Regions from separate parts of the Homo sapiens genome. Here region 1 is linked to region 2. The links come from fine-mapping of genetic effects on gene expression. A gene starts in region 2. The other region holds a variant in brackets. All regions are shown on one strand. Distances are between the middles of the regions. Region 1 overlaps LOC105370777 (a long non-coding RNA gene). Region 2 holds the start of LINC02915 (long intergenic non-protein coding RNA 2915).

What was found. PIP is the estimated chance that this variant, and not a neighbour inherited with it, causes the effect.
Region 1: its variant is the best candidate, but not a certain one, in a credible set for the expression of LINC02915 in monocytes after Pam3CSK4 (Quach 2016, PIP 0.81).

Annotation. Positions count from the first base shown.
Region 1 is chr15:39,310,726-39,316,108 of GRCh38, reverse strand. The region is part of intron 1 of LOC105370777 (a long non-coding RNA gene); the gene reads left to right. Among named protein-coding and RNA genes, the nearest start is that of LINC02915, 63 kb to the right of the region's middle. The variant T/C (reference allele first, on the strand shown) is at 2,584.
Region 2 is chr15:39,247,910-39,253,292 of GRCh38, reverse strand. It overlaps LINC02915 (long intergenic non-protein coding RNA 2915), which reads right to left and starts at 2,624. Exons shown (of 2, transcript NR_144508.1): 1 at 2,430-2,624; 2 at 1-1,234. All of the region lies in intron 1 of LOC105370777 (a long non-coding RNA gene), which reads left to right.

The DNA of each region.
Region 1 (5,383 bases), 63 kb before region 2:
CACATGGGCAAGAAGGAAGAATGGCTTCCCAGAGAAGGCAAGACTTACCAGTCATGCAGGAAATGGTGCTCAGAGAAATTTAAGCTTTGTATTTTGATTCAATTTTATTTTCCTTTAAAACAAGTGATTCTTATTTCAAACTATAGATTGCTTTGATAATTTGATGAAGATGAATAGGGTCATTTTAGAAAAATGCACTTCGAACCATCAACCATCATGTATTTTTGCAAATAATTTCAGTGGATAAGAAAATCCCCTAAAGACCATATGTTGGCCTCTTAAGTCTTGGTCCAGAAGTTTTATCAACCACAATAATAGTGGGACTCCATTCTCAAAAATTCTGATTCATCAGATATTAGAGAGTTAGTCCCAGGATTCCAAATTTTTAATAAGCACTCAAGAGAATTCTGGTTTAAGTGAGCTGGACCAAACACTGAGAAGCATTGTCATAGGGATCTCTGGCTCCTAGTTAAAAGGCATTGCCTCAGACTGCCTTAGAGCTCCAATGTTTCTGTATATATTTTCAAAATTAATTATTATCTTTCTCAATTTCACTCTATAAAGAAAACTCAAGTTCCCCATCAAATGAATTAGCCATTTTGGAGCAAAAATCAAAAGAAAGGAAAGAAGATTTTTGTTTTGACTGAGCCAGTTTGGCTGGCTTCCTATCCTGGCATCATCAGTTGAGTATTAAATTTCCAAGTCACTGGGTGACAGTATGCCTGGCTTCATCCCAGTATGGGCATTCATCAGCTGCATTGTACAGTAAGTACAGTAAGAACTGTCTTGTAAGAACGGGCTAGACTTAGTGAGACAATCCTGGTTTGTTCTGAAGAGCATAATCAAATGAGTGATTGCAAATGGAAATTGAGATCAGAGCCAGAAAAGGGGTCTTGAGCAGCAGATTTGTGATCAAGGCAATGCTGCCCAAAGAGGGCAAATTGAGCTCTCAGGAGGACTAACATTCAGGAAAACGTTAGGTAATGGGGCTTGAGTTGGATGAAGGCAAGCAGTTCAGGATGGAGGCTGTGATAAAGATGTTAGTCTTATCAAATACTGGCCAGTTTAAACACATTAGACTTGACTGGACAAAAAATGTTCTACATGGACATTCACTGATGAACCCTTATTACATAGAAGTCCAAGAAATAAAAGTTCATGGATGGTAAAATATGTCCATCTTATTTCTGATGATCATTTTTTGACAGTGAATTTACATAGAAATGATGAATAGCTCTATGTAGTTTTCATTGGTAATATTCTTTATTAGGGTATTATCTAGTTCAGTGGTTGGAAAACTTTACATAGACAGGGTAGAAAATTTTAGACTTTGTGACCTATCATACTGTCTCCATTATAAATTCATTTTTAATAATCCTTTAATAATGTAAAAATTCTTAGCTTTCAGGAAGTACAAAAACAAGGCAAGAACTGGATTTGGCCCTAAAGCTATGGTTTGCTGACCCTCTTATAGATTATCTCAACAGTAGAGTTATTTTCTATTTACATAGTATTTGGTGTTCTCTGATAGGAAATATAGGTCAGTGGAAGAACAGCTATATTTATTTAAGTTTCTCATGGAGGATATATCCCCTTCCTTATTTACTGAAAGGAGGGCTTAATACCATAAGCATGAGAAGTGGTGTTTTCTAAGCCTGAGTCCTCCTGTAGCCATCTAATATTAAAACCTGTAAGGAAAGAGTTGGATTTCAACTTGGTTTCTTTTGATCTATAAATTCAGGTATGATGGTGGTCTGGCCCTTTTGGGCTCTAAATTTAGCAATTAGCTTACTTTTGTTTATGTTTAACTACAATAAGCACCTTCTGGATTATCTGGATCTGGATTATCGGGATCATTATTTTATTGCCTGTGTACTAAAATGAGATTTAAGTCCAAGTAGACATTTGAACATAAGATTATTTGGGTTCCAGTAGGACTGCTTTAACTGTTTCCACATAATGAGACTAAAACAAACATAAACTTCATAATGGCCAAATGATGCCAACAGACAGTTTGGAAGGACTTTATCAGAGAAAACATTGATTGGATATTGAGTCATTGCATAACACATGGTCTATATAGTACAAAACTAGATAGATCTTGTAACATAGCTGTCAGCTCCTTATCCTCCCTGGAGCAGAAGAGGTTCAATTTTAGTCAAACAGTATGTTGGTCACATTTGATTAATGCTTTTAATTTGAATTTCAGTGATGGCACATTTAATTTGTAAATATGCATAAAGCTTGTTCAGTTATGAATATATGTGTGTGTATGCAGTTTAAGTTACCTCTAGGAGTGTTAGGAGATGGTCATAGTGGTCAACGTATAAATAAGGGCCAAGAACAAGGTGGTTGCAGTTAAGGTGGTTAAAGCAGGTCTGTGGTGATCCACAGGAGGCCATTCAGTGTCGTAGAGAGACGCCCCTTCCTAAGGCAGGTGCAGCCTGGAGCCAGGGCTCAAGGCCTTGCCAGCAGTGATTGGCTGGGTTTTAGCCTTGTTCACCCCCTCAGCTGAGCACTGTTGTTCAGGGGTATGTTCCTGTCCTAAGTAAGAGGGGGTGTGATTTAAGAGATAATATAGGG[T/C]AATAATCTTTGGGACTTAGTCAATTAAGTCTGGAGATGAAGAATTATTTCCTAACTTCCTCATTGACTGTTTTAAAACAATCCTCACTAAGCCACGTGGCTTTGGTGATGATTGTTTTAAAACAATATCTGATTTACTGAATCTTTCAGAAAAATTGAAATAACTGATATGAATTTTTCACAAGCTTTGATACAGTTAAGAAAAACAAAATGTAAGAAAAGAATATTGAAAGGGCTAAGCAACAGCAGCAATAGACTTGGGCAGGAGGTATGCGCACTACAAACTCGAGACCTGTGGACTTAGGCACTTCCTCTTTGCCATAGGTGTGCTTATTGGGGGTGTCATGGGCATGAGTCCACAGTGCCCTCTACTGCCTCCCAGTAGGTCTGTTCTAACATGCAACAGCTTGGTGGTCTCTTGTCCCCAGAATGAAGCAACTTTTTAAAAAAATTTATAATTATTTTATTTTATACTTTAAGTTCTGGGGTGCATGTGCAGAACATGCAGGTTTGTTACATAGGTATACACGAGCCATGGAGGTTTGCTGCACCCATCAACCCATCATCTACATTAGGTATTTCTCCTAATGCTGTCCCTCCGCTAGCCCCTCACCCTGGTGTGTGATGTTCCCCTCCCTGTGTCCATATGTTCTCATTGTTCAACTCCTACTTATGAGTGAGAACATGCAGTTTCTGGTTTTCTGTTCTGTTAGTTTGCTGAGGATGATGGTTCCAGCTTCATCCATGTCCCTGCAAAGGACATGAACTCATCCTTTTTTTATGGCTGCTTAGTATTCCATGATATATATGTGCCATATTTTCTTTATCCAGTCTATCATCGATGGGCATTTGGGTTGGTTCCAAGTCTTTGCTATTGTGAATAGTGCCGCAGTAAACATACATGTGCATGTGTCTTTATAGTAGAATGATTTGTAATCCTTTGGGTATATATCCAGTAATGGGATTGCTGAGTCAAATAGTATTTCTGGTTCTAGATCCTTGAAGAATCGCCACACTGTCTTCCACAATGGTTAAACTAATTTACACTCCCACCAACAGTGTAAAAGCATTCCTATTTCTCCATATCCTCTTGGCTAAAATCAAGTGTAGTATCTGTTCTTATCAGTTTAATGGAGCAACTTTTAAAGGGAGTTTCCTTCTAGGTGGACCCGTCACTATGGTGCAGAGAAGCAGGGAATGACTGGGTGGAACTGCAGGGCTGCTTCAGTGGGCAGGGAGAGTGCATCAGGGGAACCATGCAGAATGCTGGGCTACTCATCTGCCTCTCCATTTCACAGGAGAAACAGAGAGCTGTTGGTTTGATTGACTTAAATGGATTTTTATTTATTTAATTTATAGTAAGTGCCGCGTATTGCTAGGCCTTGCAAAGTCAAGGGTATCAGGAATATAAGAGGACTGAAAGCAATATTCCTCGTGCTTCCAGAGCAGATGCCTAACCGGGGAGGCAGAGCTCAAGTGTGGTACACTGAGAACGCCTAGGATGCAAACACAGGTGGATTTGTTTATTACTAAAGCGGCACAGGGAAACTTCTCAGAGTGAGAACATATTTTGTCAGTAGGAGGAGCGCCACATAAGATGAAATCAGACTGCACACATGCATGAGGGTTTTCTGTTTAACTTGGGGGTGAAGATGAACTTTCAAAGGGGCCTTAGAGGCAGGTATATTACATCCATATTTTTGAGTATGAAGAAGAAGGGGCAAGCAATACTTAGTGGAAACAAGACAAAATTCAGAGATAAGAGTGCAAGTGGAGTTCAAACATAGTAAGAAGAGAGGTTAATGGTATCTATCTCCCAGCAGGCAGAACACCACCACACTCCTGGGAAATGTTTCCCCAGGCACCGGAGTATGGAGGTGTGCTCTCCCCATTAGTAGGGGGTTCTTAGTATTGAGCCAGGCTTTTGCTTGCTTGAGGCCTGATTACTGTAATACTTGGTCTAATTCTTTTCGACTTGGGCCACAGGCTTAGGCATTGCTGAGCAGCTGCTGTGTGTTTTTGTCCTCTAGCAATGGTGAGCACTTTAGCCTTGATATACTGGAGCCTAAAAACATATGGCAACAGCTCTCAATCAATGTCCTGGAGCTCTCAATCAAGTTGATGTTTTGTTTGGTTGTGTTAAAAATGGATTTGGCCGGCACTATGGTTCACACCTGTAATCCCAGCACTTTGGGAGGCCGAGGTGGGTGGGTCATGAGGTCAGGAGATCGAGCCCAGCCTGGCCAACATGGTAAAACCCCGTCTCTACTCAAAATACAAAAATTAGCTGGGTGTGGTGGCGGGCGCCTGTAATCCCAGCTACTTGGGAGGTTGAGGCAGGAGAATCATTTGAACCTGGGAGGTGGAGGTGGTTGTAGTGAGCCGAGATTGTGACATTGCACTCCGGCCTGGGCAACAGGGCGAGACTCCATCTCAAAACAAAATAAATAAAAAAGGATTTAAGGATAGTTTTCATGGCATCCTTTCCCCATAATTGCAGATATTAAATGCAGCCTAAGAACAAGTGTTAAAACATCCTCAGAGACAGTTTAGTAGTGAAACACCCAAGTCTTTCTGACATTAATAGGCTTTAGTGGGATTAGCTTAGTAATAGTTACATAATGTGTGATTCGTGGCAATGAAAATGCTAAAAGGGCCAATTATTGCATCATAATGGACACACCTTTAACATAAAGATACATTTGTCATTTTGTGGTGTTCATCTATATTTAAATGAAGGATACGAATCATCATTGTAATGGCAACTTTAGCTGTCAGGGATCCTGTTGCAGCTCTGCCT
Region 2 (5,383 bases):
TTGGCAACTTAATTTTCTAAAAAGTATTAATTGCCTGCCTATATGGACAATAGAAACAACAACAACAAGAATATCCTGCCAATAAATCAGGCTTTTTGGCTGGTGCCTTGTAGTGCCTTGTAAATATTAGTAAGCATGTTTCCTATTCTAAAGTAGGTTTAAAAAAAAAAAAACTTAAATTCAGTAACTTCGTTTCACCTTCTTGAAGAACCTGCATTTCCTTTACATTTATAACCATTAGAGTGAGGCATGTTAAATAATTCAAATGAGAAATCCTAGTTTCCACCTTTATGTATCTCTCGGGTTTTCCTTTGTTCACCCAGTCTCCTGCAAAAATCATCAAATGTTCAAATTTATAGTTTGTGACTTGGTCACCCTGAACCTCTTGGTGACCCGGAATGAACATGAGATGCTGTTATTTAGCACTTGGAGCTCAGTTAGATATTAGTTTTCCTATAGTGAAATACTCTGATGCCAGTGAGGAAGGAAATCAGAAACAGGAATCAGACGATTCTGGCCAATCCTCCCAATACGAGGAGAGTGTCACTGACGGAAATGGGTCTGGATACTGGGTTTCTCTCTCCTAAATCCTTTGATGCCAGTTATTAAAATGGGTTACTTCTTACAGCCATGACATTGAACACTTCAATGAAATGATGCAAGATTTGGACTCCAAAATGTCCCCTCTCTCCCCTGTCAGCAGCATGAGCCTGAGCACGGCAAGAGTCAGCCAATATAGTGCACACACGCTTTGTTGAACTCATGTTCTTCCACCCAGGAGACTGAGGTTTCTGTGCAAAGAGTAATGTCAATCCGCTGGAAATCACTGGGTTGTCTGTTTCTTTGTTTATGACTTCTCCATATAGTTGGTTCTGCTCCAACTTATTTGAAAGGGACATCTGTTGGATGATTTGATGTGATGTCTGTTCCCTGAAAGTCATTTCTGACAGGGCGATGTAAAGGAACCTGAGAGGGAGCTCCGTCATGTGATGAGTGGCTCTTAAGTGCAGGAACAGATTTGAGAGGATTATCCAAGACAGTAACTTCAAGATCAAACTAGGCCATGGAGTTAGCCATAAGGCTCTGCAAATTCTTTGCGGCTCAGCCCTCTGGGGTCTCCTGCCACCGTGCTTGCCAGTAATGAATTTCACTTCCATGTGGGATCTTTCAGGTCTTCTTGACACACTGAAGCCATATGTGTTTCAGCCACTTCAGACATCATCCTGCTCTTTAACTTGAAGAACAGTCTAAGTCAGTGAGGTTTGCCATGGCATCAAATCTCCTTTTAAACCCACACCGCTTGAATAATAACTATGATTCTGGATAGTTGACTCATGAATATTTCCTGCGAAGGAACAATGAGGGTATTCTGAGGAAATTAAATCCATACAAGTAATTCCCAAACTTTATTCATGTTTGAATACTTTCTAACTTCAAATGTTTTTACCAGACTGGTAACACATAGCAAAATCAACTGATAAGATTGTCCTTTTTTCTTTCTTCCTCTTCCTCTACCTAACACTTCTCTAGTGTGGTACTAACTGGAGAAGGCACAAAGAGTAAGTAGATAGAAAGGGAAATGAAAAGTCAAAGAGCCCTACACTTTTTTTTCCCCCCTCTCTCCTGGTAGTCCTACTTCAAAGGCAGTGTAGCTTTCTCAGAAAGGCCAACCCACACTCAGAGGGTGAAGTTGGAAAACCCCAGCAACCCTATGATACACAATAAACCCATGTAAGGAGGTGGTCCCTTACAAACAGTTGGCTATGAATATCTTCTTTCAAATAGTCTGACACTCGTGGCATAATTATTTTTGTAAGAGTCCTCAGGAAAGTCTGTTTTGAAATACTGCATAGCTTAAGACTACAATAGTACCTTGCATAGTTCAATGTAAACATATCCAGGTGGCTTGTGAAGAAGAGAGGAAGCCAGAGGTGATGCTTCTCTATAGGAAAATGACACTGCAGCCAGCCCCCCGAATCCTGAGAAGACCCTAAATACACCACTCCCCCTCCCCGACAACTACCCAAGTGATATCCTGTGAGTGACTGGATTCTAATCTATCGAATAGTTTCTGTACATGAAAAAAAAATCAATTTTGGAATAAGAGTTGCCAGCAGAAAGATTTCCATTTATTAGGCACCTACCAGGTGCCTGATTCTATTGGGTACATTAAAGATATTCTTTCATTTAGTTCTCACCTGGAAACTCTCAAGGCTTGTTCACATTTTACTGATGAGAGAAATAAGGCACAAGAAGATTAAACAAACAATCCAGGCCAACTCAAGTGGAGGGATGTGTGGTTGAGTTCAGGTCTGCCTGTAAATCGCTTGAGGCCAGAAACTTTTCTCTATTTTGTTCACTGATGTGTCCCAAGTGCCCAGAAGAATGCCTGGCAAATTGTAGCTGCTTAGTAAATATTGAATGATTACCTTAATGAGAGAATCCAGCACGTGTACTCCTAAGTATTATTCTCTACAGTTTCTCCTCAGTCTCCTCACTCCAGTCTGTTACCTGCCCCTTTCTCCCATCCCATTTCAAAGGGAAATGGAGCCCAGAGCTGCAGTGGATGCTGTAGAAAGTTATATCTCTGTGTACATCCTGCTGAAGGAATGGAGCGATTGTCAGGGAGCTGTGTCATTGAGTCTGAGGCCTTACTTCCTTGCTCTCCCCCTTCTATTTCCTGCTTCCTCCCACAAAGATTTTCTGAGTCCTTGCTGTGTGCTGAGCACTGGAGACTCACTATGAACAAAGTTGGTATGGTCCCTGTCCTTATGCAAATTATTGAATAAATTATAGGTACGGTGAGTGTTTTGACAGAGAGGTAAGAATGTTATAGAAACATATAACAAGAGGACTCAGACCTATTCTTTGAGGTCAGGAAAGACATCTTTGCAAATTTTAACTTTAAGACAAGATATTAAGGATAATTAAGAGTTCCTAATGTATACCTTGGGTTTCCTGGATGTCTCTGCCTAAGACACTTTTAGGGAGGAGTTAAGACTGTTTTCCTATAATACTAAGAAGTCATTTGCCTTTTCATTCTTATTGCATTACAAGTGTACAATGGAGTTTTACAGAAGCTGCATAACATAGATTTCACAACAGATTGAATGCAGAAGCAGACATGAGAATCCATTTATCCTTTAGTAAGCCAGATATTGGTAAGATTTGCAAAAAATGCATAACAGCACTACTAGTCTCACTCATGTATTTTTGGTTTTGGAAAACGTGGCTATGTTTTCATAAAATGTTATTTATGTTAAGGTATAATCAGTTTACTATGTTGTTTTAAAATGAATTAAATATTTAAAAAAGAATTGGTTCTAATTTGCAACATGATATAATGATATAATCTACCTTTTTTAAAATGAAAAGGTCTTTGGGGTTCTTCAGAAGATTTGAGAGCACAAAGGGGCCGAGCCCCAAAAGTTTGCGAATGGCTGAGCTAAGAGAAGAGGAGGAGGGAGTGTTCCACAGTGAATAAACAGCCTGTGTAAAAGCCCTTCCCTGGTATACGACTTGTAGTTTTGAGGATATTAAAGAAGTCCAATGTGGTTGGAACATAGAAAGTGATGGAGAGAGAATATAATATGCAGAACAATGGGTAAGCAGTGCCATATTTGAGAGCAATGACTTAATCTTAGGTCAGTGGGAAGTCACTGAAGGGTTTTAAGCAGGTTGGAATTGATGAGATACATGTTGAGAGAGGAAGGAAAAGGAAAGAAGAAAGGAAAAGAATGGGGGGACACAGAGAAGGGAGGTCAGGAGGCTTTTGGGGAAAACTTAGTAAGCTATGAGGGAGGGACAGTAGGGCTGGATAGAAGAGGATAGATGTAAATAATATTATGGAGAATCTAGAGGACTTGGGTTTGATTGTCAGTAGAGAGTGACTTGTTTTGTAAAAGAAGGAATGAATTTTCTCATGGTTTTTTAGTCATACCACTTGATTTTAAATTCTAGCGCTAATTCTGTGACTGTGAGCAAATTATTTAAACTCCATAAGCTACAATTTTCTCATCTGTAAAAAAAACAGGAACAAGAGCCACAATTTCATATGGTTGTTGAAGTTATTTTAAAATGCACACATATCTAATATAACTGGATTATCGTAATTATTTATTTGTTTCCCTTACCTTCTCTTTAACTCTCTTTCTTACCATTTTAAGATGGAGGGGGGAAGTTGGCAGTGTTCTTCAGGAAACATAAATTCTTGGGAAGGGAGTTTGGACACCATATGCAAAATCTCCTCCTGTGATTCCTCTACACACTGGAGGTGTGCTTTCCTCAAGCACTTGAAGCAAATGTGTTCTCTAGTCTCTTCTCTCTCTCTCTTTTTTTCCCTGAAGACTACTCTGTCATTTAAGTTCAGTTATTTTTGTCTTACCTGCTCACTTTGGACTTGAAACTTTGTCCCGTTCTTCTTGTTCCATAGTCTGATTCCTACTATTTTTTTCCTTCACCTTTCTCTTCCCAAAGTCTTAGGCTAGCCTTCTCTATTTCTCAGCTTTGTCATGCCCTTGACTTTGCAAGATTCTCTTTCCTGGCAACCACCATCTACAGACAAAATATTAATAACTTTGGAGGAGTTAGGACAGAGGCATTAAAATTATTGTAAATAAAGCCAGATAGTCCTTTTGACTGGGTCCTGAACTACCTTCTGTTATTCCTACAAGTATCTTTTGAAAGGCTGTTCTCAAATGCGTTGACTTGAGAATTTAGAGAAATATTCTTTCGGGCTGAAGGGAAAAGAGACAGAGAACTACAAGGTCACAGGACCATGACAATATGTTGCCTTTTGCCAAGTGGCCCTTATTAAACAGCCTAGGAGGTGAGTGGAGGAGAGCATGGGTCTGGCAGTCTGCCCTGGGACAAGGAGCTTTGTCTGCACGCAGGTTCCCAGCTCACAGACGGTCCATATTTGAATAGAGCCCATTGTTTACCACTTGGGTGGAAAACAGAGGAAATAGGCAATGAGTCAGGCACCCACTTGTTTCAAAAGGAATTTTTAAAAGAGTTTCAGGGAAATCTAAGAGAAAAATAGAAGTTTGAAGGAAGATGAAGGAGACAAGGACAAACTGAGGGCTGCTGGATGCTAATGACATGCTTTTCTTTGCTGATAGCCTATCATTCTGGGTCTGTGGGTTCCAACCCTGAACCTGAATCCAACAGGAAAGGTACTTCTGGAGAAGAGCTTCCACTCTGGGGAGGCATTCTGACTAAGATCTAATCTGAAGTAGTTTGGAGTAAATTGATCTGCCTCTTTTCTCCATTTAAAGGACATTTGCTAAAAATGCCTTCTTCTTCAAAGGGCCCGCAGAACAGAGAGAGGGGATTACAGTGTGTATAATTTTTGAAATATGGTAACTGATCAGCAAATGGCATA